Regions from separate parts of the Homo sapiens genome. Here region 2 is linked to region 1. The links come from fine-mapping of genetic effects on gene expression. A gene starts in region 1. The other region holds a variant in brackets. All regions are shown on one strand. Distances are between the middles of the regions. Region 1 holds the start of PHLDA1 (pleckstrin homology like domain family A member 1). Region 2 overlaps LOC105369844 (a long non-coding RNA gene).

Evidence for each region. PIP is the estimated chance that this variant, and not a neighbour inherited with it, causes the effect. A credible set is the group of variants that fine-mapping cannot tell apart.
Region 2: its variant is the best candidate, but not a certain one, in a credible set for the expression of PHLDA1 in testis (GTEx, PIP 0.57).

What each region holds. Positions count from the first base shown.
Region 1 is chr12:76,029,525-76,034,902 of GRCh38, forward strand. It overlaps PHLDA1 (pleckstrin homology like domain family A member 1), which reads right to left and starts at 2,252. Exons shown (of 2, transcript NM_007350.3): 1 at 986-2,252; 2 at 1-568. The coding sequence starts at 2,217. The coding sequence ends at 1,012. It overlaps PHLDA1-AS1 (PHLDA1 antisense RNA 1), which reads left to right and starts at 970. Exons shown (of 2, transcript NR_186034.1): 1 at 970-1,070; 2 at 1,387-1,854. PHLDA1-DT (PHLDA1 divergent transcript) reads left to right here and starts at 2,289. Exons shown (of 2, transcript NR_185978.1): 1 at 2,289-3,278; 2 at 3,740-4,865. RefSeq lists a silencer at 1,788-1,937 and an enhancer at 2,158-2,407.
Region 2 is chr12:75,661,767-75,667,144 of GRCh38, forward strand. LOC105369844 (a long non-coding RNA gene) reads right to left here. Exons shown (of 16, transcript XR_007063375.1): 7 at 1,954-2,040. Among named protein-coding and RNA genes, the nearest start is that of KRR1, 150 kb to the left of the region's middle. The variant T/C (reference allele first, on the strand shown) is at 2,800.

The DNA.
Region 1 (5,378 bases):
TATATGTTTAAGCAAAAACAAAAATAAAAATCCTCAAAAAAAGTAATATCAGAGTTTTAATTTCAACCAGCTGGCACAACAATGAAAGTGTCAGACTTTCTGAAAGTACTCGAGAAATAATGAATAAATTCTTAATGTTTTCCCCTCCACCGCCCTTTTTTATTCTCCAAGATTAGGAATTACTACGGATTAGGTTTTTGAAAATAAAGTTTCCTTTTTGGAAAATGGTCTACATTCAGAAATGTCTTAGAACAAGCATTTAAAAAAAAACTAATAAATAATCATAAATCAAAATACATTAAAATAAAATTACAGTACATCATCGCTCCTAGAAAATTCACCATACAAGACGATCCTTTCAAAGGTTCATAAATAAAAGTCTTCTTGACTCGAAATCGTTTCCTGCATCGTGATGAAAAGTATGCAGAAAACTAAGAAGAATCGCAAGTTTTCAGTAGGGTGATGTCCAAACTACTTGATCTGGTGCGGGGCGGAGAGACTGTTTTGCTTTTGATCCAAGTGAAGACAATAGAAATGTGCTCGTCCCACTTCCTCAAGTCCTCAAAACCTGGAAAGAAATGACACCGAGTGAAGTAGGTGGCTAAGAACCCTCCGAGACCAGTTCTGTTCGGGCCAGTCCGCCTGACAAAGCGGGCTCAGAAAGACACCGTGGTGTTTCCCTCAACTGCCCAAACATATAGTCAAGTGGGGCTGGGGGACGCACCACGGGACAAGGACGGTCGTGATGGGCGCGGGCGCGGGCGCGGTCCGCGAGGCCCCCTGCCTGGCCCGGATCTCCCCAGCCTCCCCTCTCTGCCCAGCTCTCCTGGCCCCAGCTTGTTTCTGTTTCTTCCATTGCCCCAGAAACTTGGTATGAGTTTTGATTTCTCCATACAGGAGCCGAACCTGTGAACAAGCTTCCTACTCCTCCCAACTCACTACCCCCGAGACCCACTCCTCGGGAGCGCGAGTGCCGGGACCTTACCTTGTCTTGCCCGGGAGCTGCCCCTTTCAGGCAGAGTTGGAGGTGCTGCGGAGAAGCCGGTGCCCGTGCGGCTGCGAGTGCGGCTGTGGGTGTGGGTGCGGTATTTGGTGCGGATGCGGGTGCGGGTGAGGGTGTGGGTGCGAGTGAGGATGAGAGTGTGGATGTGGATGTGGATGCGGATACGGGTGGAGCTGCTGGGGCTGAGGCTTGGGTTGGGGCTGAGGCTGGGGTTGTGATTGGGGCTGGGGTTGCGGCTGAGGCTGAGGCTGGGGTTGGGGCTGGAGCTGCGGCTGCGGCTGCGGCTGCGAGGGGGGCTGCTGCTGGACCAGGTGCTGCTGCTTCTGCCGCGTGGATTTGACCGCCAGGATGGCCTGACGATTCTTGTACTGCACCATCTGCAGCGTGATCTCGGCGTTCCAGCCCTGGTCTTGCGGGCACCGAAAGTCGATCTCCTTGCCCTCTGCCATCACCACAGTGAAGTACATGTACTTGCCCTTGCGCTCCACACAGTCCACGGTCTTCATGTTGGAGAAGTGCAGTTCCTTGAGCTTGACCGGCGGCTCGAGGCTGGCGACAGCGGGGCCACTGGGTTGGGACGGCTCGGCCGGCCCCTGCCCGGGCTGTTGTTGCTGCTGCTGCTGCTGCTGTTGCTGCTGCTGCTGCTGGTGTTGCAGCTGCTTGGGCGGGATAAGCAGCAGCCCTTCCTCGGTGAGGATGCAACACTTTTTCTTCCAGAGCTGCAACAACCCGTCGCTGCGCTTCTCCAGCACGCCCTCCTTCAGCGCTTTGCAGCCGCTACTCTCCAGCATCCTCCCAGCATAAGAGGGGCCGCCGCTTGGCTCGGCCTCTCCGTTTCCAGCCGCGCGGGCCGGGGGCAGCAGCAGCAGCCTCGCGCCGTCCTCGCCCCAGCGGCTCCCACGGCCGCCTGCCCGGAGCGCGCAGAGGAGGCTAACACGCAGGAGGCAGAGCGGCGGCGGCGGCTCTGGGTCCCGGCAGAGGGACAGCCGCGTCCTGATGCGCCACAAGGTCCCGGAGCTCCGAGCTGCCGGGCCTCTGCCGTCCTCTTGCGAGCGCTCACTGAAGGGCACTGGCCGGGCCCCCTCGCGGCGCTTTTGAATGGGCCATCTTCCCCACCCCCGAGTGACACCCAGCGGAAAAGGCGGCTCCTGGCGCCCGCACCGCGGGGGAAAGCCCAGCTCCAAGAGGCGCTCGGCAGCCGGCGCACGCCTCATTAACTTGGGGCCTTTCCAAAGCCCGCTGCGTCCACGCCCTCCAGCGTCTCTTGCTCCGCCTCTCGCCGCCCACTTGCTTCCGCGCTCGTTCCCCTGGAAGGCGACCCGGACCCGAGCCCCGGAAACTCCTCTCCTCTACCCAGGGCGATCGCCCAAGGAGCCCTGGCTGCCTGACTACTGCCGACGCTCACAGGGCGCTGCGAGGCCATCCCCCGCGTCCCGCTTCTCCCCGGCCCGCGGGACTCTCTGCTAACAGCCTCAGAAAGTGAGGACGGGGGCGCGGAGGCGGGGGCAGCCTCCAGGCAGTGCTGCCTCTCGGTTCTTGGGAATTAGCCCGGGGGATTCGCGCTGGGCTCCGAGAGCCCGCAGAACCAGCGTCGTGTCCTGGGCGAGCTGGGAGGCCGGGGCCGAGTCCCGCGAGTCCCGCGAGTGTGCCTCCCCCGGACGCCTAGGTAAACAACTGAGCGCACAGAGGCCGAGAGGACATCGTGTCTTCCCACGCATATTCGCTCACGGTCACTAAGTAGCTCTTCTTGGAAAGAGGGCGATTGTTAAAGCAATAGTGCGACTGTCGGGCTTGCCACGGGTGGAGAGAGGCGGACCCACGTCAGGTCGCATCTCGCCTGCTTTTCTCGACCCCGACCGCAGGCGCTAACCCGTCTTCGGCTTTCTTCTTGACCCGTACGGTTTGCAACGTCTCTTAAAACAGTAACTCAACTCTCTACAAACCGGGGTAATATCCGGTGCTGAGATCCCACACTGCAAGGCGCAGTTCCAAACGTCTGGTCGGCCTCGCAGGTCCCTCTTTCCAAGGCCTAGCCAGATCTTGGTTTTGGAATCTCATTTATCTGTGACCTGGGGAATGCAATACCCCCAGCTCCCTCCTACTCCTACATTTAAACAATGCCTATAGAAGCCGCTTCCTGGGAAGTAAGGCATAACCGAGACCTAGCCTCCCGGTAGGGAAGTTCATCCGTTTAGTAAACAGCCCCAACTACGTGCGGACCCTCACGGGGATACGAAGAATTCAACCAGGGCTGGACAAGTCAGAGTGGGCCAAGGTAAGAGTTACGGCTGCTACTGTGCCCACGTTGGAACAGATAGATTAGTTCATCTGCTAGTTGTGTGGCAAGAGCAAAGAATTCAAGAGGGGAAGAGAAAGTGAGAGGAGCTTAGAGAGCTAAGCAAGAATCGAATCCTTTGTGTGTCATGGTAAGAAATTCGAACTTAATACCAAGGTAGTCAGAACAAAGGACAACTTTTATACACGAGGGCGTCCTGAATATTCATCTAAGAAACAATGTCTGATCAAACGGGACAATCCAGCCAGCAATCCTGAGTCCCACCGGATTATGCTTGGCCAGCTTTCTAGCCTTCACATTGTTAATTTATTAGCAATCTTTTCAGGAGAAAGGCAATTATTAAAATTATGTGGACTTCTAGTAAAATTATCTCGAAGATTTACAATTATGTATACCAATAACAAAAAAACTACATGTTTTCTGCTCCCCTGCCTTTGTAGGACAAGTGAGCATTCCAGAGAATTTCTACATGACCAGCTGTTCATTCTTTTAAGAGGATGACATTCTTCAGCTCATCTGGAAAGGATACTTCCTTTAAGTCTGTTATTCACAGTCTCCAAGGGCAGGTGTAGTTGGGAAAGACATTTCATATGGAAAAACAAACTTGATAGGGTAAAAAAAAAAAAAATGAGATGTAATCTGGAGGCCCAAGTCATTTTCTTAGGAGAAACTCAAATGTGTTTGGTGTTATCTAACCTTCTGCAGTTTATCAGTCTGAAACAAATGCATTCTATTCTCATTTGAAAATGTCTGAACAGCCACCAATTTTCAAAATCACCCATTTAACTAGAGACTTTAAAGCCCAGAATTTGCAGTTACGTATTTCAGAATGATTTAGTAATTTTGTGAGCAGCTCAGAGGTTAAGTCTACAATGTCTGACTACGGTGCATTATTGAAAATATCAGTAGTGTAAGGATCCCGTAGATTGGTGATAACTTTGCTCTTGTTATTTCAACAGTTACCACCAACAGTTGGTGACTTAACAAATTAAGAGCATAGTTGCCATATGCTCATATTTGGCAAATATGTCAAAATGGCCATATTTGCCAATTTTTAAGACAATAAATTCACAGAAAATGCATTACAGAAAATAACTTAAAAAAAAAAAAAACAACTTTTGGGCCAGGCATGGTGGTTCACACCTGTAATACCAACACTCTAGGAGGCTGAGGTGAGAGGATCCCTTGAGCCCAGGAGTTTGAAACCAACCTGGGCTACATGGCAAGGCCTCCCTCTACAAATGTAAAAAAAAAATTAGCCAGGTGTGGTGGCATGCGCCATGTAGCCCCAGCTACTTGGGAGGCTGAGGTGGAGGACTGTTTGAGCCCAGAAGTTCAAGGTTGCAGGAGCTAGGATCGCACCACTATACAAGCCTGGGTGGCAGCAAGACCCTGTTTAAAAAAAAAAAAAAATTCAGCTGTATATGCAATGAAAACCTACAAGTCACTGAAAAGTTACTGAAGTTTAGAAAACTAGCCAACAAAATCATTGCTTTGGTAAACAAATTTGAAATGGCTAATTGAAAGTACATTTTACAGCTGGCAATATAAAGTTATCTATCAGCAGCACTGGACAGTTCATTTTCTTCTCTTGGATAAAGTTTATCACTTGGCTTCAAGGACATCACTCAGTTTTCCTTTACATCTCCAGTGTCTCCTCTATGAGGTGCTTTCTCTTCTCTCCAAACTTTTAATGTTGGAATGCCCCAAGTCTTTGTCTTTGGCTCTCTTCTTTATCTACACTCATTCCCTTGTTGATATCCAGTCTCATCACTTTTAATAACATCTATATGCCAGAGTCCCAAATTTATACCCCCAACTTATATCCAACTGCTTACTGCCGAAGAATAAAACACTGAAGTTAAAAAATAATAAACATACCAGGCAAGGGAACACTTACTAGTAAAGCCATTTACTGAGTAGTTCACTAAAGGTTTAAGTCTGAGGGGATTTTAGGTCATAGGAAAAAAAAAAAAAAACTGAAAAAGAACACTCGGATGGTCAGAGGAGTCTGTAATTCATACACAATAGGTTTTAACAAATTCCTACATGGAACTGCTCCAGTTTATAGGTTAGAAT
Region 2 (5,378 bases), 370 kb before region 1:
CATAGCCAGGAAATTCTGTAGCATTATAAAATGGTTCAGAACACAGAGCATGTTTTAATCCTAGCTTTGCCACTTCCTTTCTGTGTGACCTTGGATAAGTCAGCTGACGTATTAAAACTGGTTTTCTTGTCTAAAAATATAAAGATAATAACATACAATATTAGAGGGTTTTGTGAGGATTAAAAGAGCTAAGTCTATAGCACAGTTCCTGGAACATTGTGTGCAGTCAATAAATGGTGGTTATTATTATTACGGTTATTGTTCTTACAGTAATTAATTCTGGCACCATATTTTACAAAGAACTTTGACAAATTGGAGCCCATCCAGAGGAGAACAAACAATCTTGTGAAGGGTCTGGAAACCACAACTTGTAAGGAATGATGGAAAGAGCTGAGGATGTTTACCTTGGAAGAGACACATTTTAAGAGGAACATGATAGCTTTTTTAAAAACACTGAAAAGAACTGTCTGGTGGAAGACAGATTTGATTTATTCAATGTTACTCTGGAGTATACATTTAAAGCCAAAGAGTAAAAGTTAAATCTTAAATTCTTTATGATCTAATAACCAAACTTTCCCAAACCAAAATAGTATTGAATTCTACTTATAATAGTAAAAACTTTTAAGTCATGTTTGCATAAATTTTTATTAGGGAAATTATATCGTATATGAAGCCACTTGCAATTACCACTGTATTCGTCCATTTTCACACTGCTAATACAGACATACCCAAGCCTGGGCAATTTACAAAGGAAAGAGGTTTAATGGAGAACTCACAGTTCCACGTGGCTGAGAAAGCCTCACAATCATGGCAGAAGGTGAAAGGCATGTCTCACATGATGGCAAGCAAGAGAAGAAGGCTTCTGCAGAAAAACTCCCCTTTTTAAAACCATCAGATCTCATGAGACTTATTCACTATCACAAGAATAGCACAGGAAAGACCTGCTCCCAGGATTCAATTACCCCCTACTGGGTTCCTCCCACAAGATGAGATTTGGGGTGGGGACAAAGCCAAACCATATCAACCATATTAAGACTTTGTATCAATATGAAAAGTATGTGTGGGATGTCAATTGCAAAAAAGCAGACTATGAAATATGTGCATAAGCAGACTATGAAATATAGGCACTCTATAGAGAGAAACAGAAACAAAGAGAGAGAGAATATAAACACAAACACATGCAAATAAAATGTGTTACTTCAAGAGGTGATGAGTTTCCTGTCCCTCCAAAGGTTAAAGCAGAGACCAGACAACCTCTTAGAAGAAACAGCATGTGAGAAGTGATATTACAGACAAAGCATTGGGCAGGGTGAACACTGAAACGATTTCAAAGCTCCTTGGGTCTATGATCTGATGAATATTGTTGAATTGTGGGCACAAAACTGTGCTTTTTAAAATAGTAAAGATGACATTAAGCCTCTCAAATATTTTCATTTCCTCCCAATTAAAACAGGCAAAAAAAATCTAGTACCAAGAGACCCAAGTTCTGGGCTCCATGATCTACTAGGGCATTGTGGCATCAAGACCCACAAAGTGGACATTTCTGGCCATTATTTCTCTTCTGCTCCAGCAAAAGCCTGTCAACCTCTCTGAACCTCATTTTCTGGATCCTTTCCCAAAAAGAAGGAAGTTGCATGCTTTCTATTTCTAAGAATCTATGCTTCATCTTGATTATTTTCTTTCATAAATCTGAGCTTGGCCAGAAATTAGAAGCCACCTGAACTTTGTAAATAAGGAATTTCCAAGAACACTAACAAGGGAATAACTGTAGGAGAATTTTGGTCCCCAAATCAGGGATGGTCCTTTTTCCACATAAGTTTCAAAAAGTAATAAATAATTCCTATTATAATTAAATGGGTGAAAAGTTTAGAACTCTAAGAGACAAGCATCCAAAAGTAGGGTTTTCCTAGAAAGTCTCTTTATATTTTATGTAAGATGACATTAAGTCATCACCTGCATTGCTTTCTTGGCTTTTGATGATAAAGGAGCTCTCCTCTGTTGTTGTTAAACTTCCAGGCAAGTTTTCGGGCTATCTTCATCCTAGAAGGGCCAATAGACAGAAGATTGCCATTTTCAAGCATTGAACACACAATTGGATCCTTCCTTGACGTCAACTTACCTCCCATTTTATATCTCGGATGATTTCCAGTGGTGACAAAAACATGTATATTTCCTTTCCCACTTAGGGAACTATGAGGTGTGCTTTGACTAGCCAATAGAGATATTACAAAATAGCAAACCCATAAAACTTCTAGAGACTTCACGAATCCTGTAAGAACAGCCTCATTCTCTTCGAATCCTTGGTTATAATTCACATAGATTATCTTGTGGGAATAGAACAAAGTAAGCCTTGCTGTGCCATGCTCTTCTTGTGAAGAGTTCTCTGACTCCTATATTTCAGATGAAGGAATCATTGTAACATGACAATGGTCAGGGAGTGCCCTGCTCCCATGCCCAGAATTGACCTACCATCCTCAAACCAATAAGCTCAAGCCCAGATGATTACCACCTACATGGAAGGTAACTTTTTTTTCAGAAAATAGAAATTTGTTAATATTTTTATAATTGAGATGAAATTCACATAACAAAAATCAACCATTATAAACTGAACAATTCAGACCGATTTATTACATTCACGTGTTGTATAATCATGACCTCTATATAGTTGCAAAACATCTTCGTTACCTCGAAATACAACCCTGGACCCATTGTGCAGTTCCTCCATTCTCCCCTCTCTCCAGTCCCTGGCAAATGTTTGTTTTCAGTCTCTATAGATGTACCTATTCTGGATATTTTATA[T/C]AAATAAAATCATGTAACATGTGACCTTTTCATTCTAGAAAGATAGCCTTTTAATCATTCCCAAGTTTACTTTAGGAAGGTGTCACGTTTGTGTAAGGAAATACATAATCATATGAATTAACTTATCTAAACAAGAATTTATTGAGACCTAGCATTTGCAAAACATCTAGTGTTTTAGGAGCACAAAAAAGACCTATTAATTATCCTTGTACTCAAAGAAGCTACAGTTTAGAAAGTGGGTAGCAGAGAAAAAAGATCGAGAGCCAAATCCAAGAGGCCACTATTTTTTAGCAATCAAAAGAAGCCTGGCTTATAAGGGAAGCTTGGAGCTTTGAGGTCCTCCATAACTCACATCAATACTAGTTAGGATTCGTGGTTGCAAGTTCCAGAAATATAACTGAATTAGTTTAAAACAAAAAGGGGAAATACCAGGTGTGGTGGCTTATGCCTGTATTCCCAGCACTTTGGGAGGCTGAGGCGGGTGGATCACCTGAGGTCGGGAGTTTGAGATCAGCTTGACCAACATGCACAAAGCCTGTCTCTGTTAAAAATACAAAATTAGCCAGGCATGGTGACACATGCCTGTAATCTCAGCTACTTGCGAGGCTGAGGCAGGAGAATCGCTTGAACCCAGGAGTCAGAGGTTGCAGTGAGCCAAGATCATGTCATTGCACTCCAGCCTGGGCAACAAGAGCAAAACTCCATCTCAAAAAAAAAAAAAAATGTGGGAAGGAATATATTATGGAAAAGCAGGGGTGGCTCACAATGCGTGGTAGTAGAAACGGAGCCCAAACTCAAAGGAGAAGCTTAGGAATTTCCCTTTCTCATCTTGATTGCTATCTTAGTCCATTCAGGCTGCTATGACAAAATACCACAGACTGGGTGGCTTATAAACAACAGTAATTTATTTCTCACAGTTCTGGAGGTTAAGAATCCCAGGTCAAGGCATTGCAGATTTGATGTCTGGTGAGCACTCCCTTTTTCATAGATAGCTGTAATTTCACATGGGGTAAGGGACAAGGGGTTTCTCTGGGGTCCCTTTTATAAGGGCACTTATCCCATTAGGGAGGGCTCCACTGTAATGACATAATCATATCCCAGAGGCCCCACCTTCAAATAACATCATCTTGAGGTTACGATTTTAACATATGAATTTTAGGAGGACATAAACATTCAGTCCATTGCAGCTCCTCTATATATTTAAACGTCAATTCATTCTTTGCTCTCTGTTCACGTGGTGGACAAAAGACAGTGATCCCACAGTTTCCAAGTTTATATCTCCTTTCTTCAAAAGAGGCACTATTACATGAGGCTAAGAACAGGCTCCAGAGTCAGACAGAGGTGAGTTTAAATCCTAATTCTACCATCTACAGGCTGTGTGACACTGGGAAAGTCATTTAACCTCTTGGGCCTCAGTTTCCTCTTCAATAATAATACTGATTTCATAAGGTTCTTAAAAATTTAGTTGGAAAACACATATAAAGATCAATGTTCACCACATAAATCTTCAACAAATATTAATTATTTAATATTATGATTAAAGAGGCCATCCCTAAATGAGTGAGTCTTGATAACAAATCCAGATTTCAAAAAAGAGACTCTGATTGATCCAACTTGGGCCAAGTGCTTCCCTCTCCTCTATCAGTAACAGCCAGAGGGTAGAGTCACAGCTGAGAAAGATGGCTAGCACAGACATTCCTGTGGTAGAGACTCAGGAGCCTGTCTGCAACTGAACCCAGGAGAGAAGATACCAGAATCAGAGAGAAGAGGTGCGGAGTGAAAGTCAGGCCCCTAACCTGCTGAGGGGACAGCTGCCCGTGGATCCCAGGCCACAGAAGAAAAAACTTATTTGCGGCTTTTGGGCCTTAGCTAAAGAGACTCTCTCAGTTGATCTTTGGAACTTGTGCTACTGATTTTTAATTTAGTCAATATTGACTAGTTAACCTCCTGGACTTTGAAATCATTGTTTACTCTCTTTTCTATCACTTTAGCTTGTTTGGATTATTCTTTTATTCTCTCTGACCTTTAGTTTCAGATTTTCCTTTATCTTAGTTGTTCTTACCTCATGGTTTGCTTGCTGCCTTCTGCTTTTTTTTTTTTTTTTTTTTTTTTTTTTGGTGGCAGGGAGGGGTTGGGTTCATTTATGTAACCTAGTTTCTTGTATCATTTTATCTTTATTTAACTGTTCTTTTTTATTGTTTTATTGCTACTTTTAAACCTTTTTATTATCTACAATTTTTAGTTTTCTGAAATTCTACCAGTGAAAAGTGAAGAGGAAGGAGTTCAGCTGACAGGATGACCCCTTTGACCCCAAAAGACGGATCGGGGCTCATTTCCATTTCAACCATCCTGTAGGGGCCCCCAGACCCTGATGCTGATCTACAGAAATCTCACAGAAACTCTGCATAATTTAGTTTAGAAAGGTGTTTACAGATCCCCTCGGTTAAGGATTACACATCAGGCTGCTTCTCACCATACTTTGTTTCTGCTTTTCTAGGATAAAGTGCCTCCCTTCAGCAGATTGAGTAGGCGGTGAGTCCTATTCTGGAGAAAAAAGGTTTGTAGCTCTGCCAAAGAAT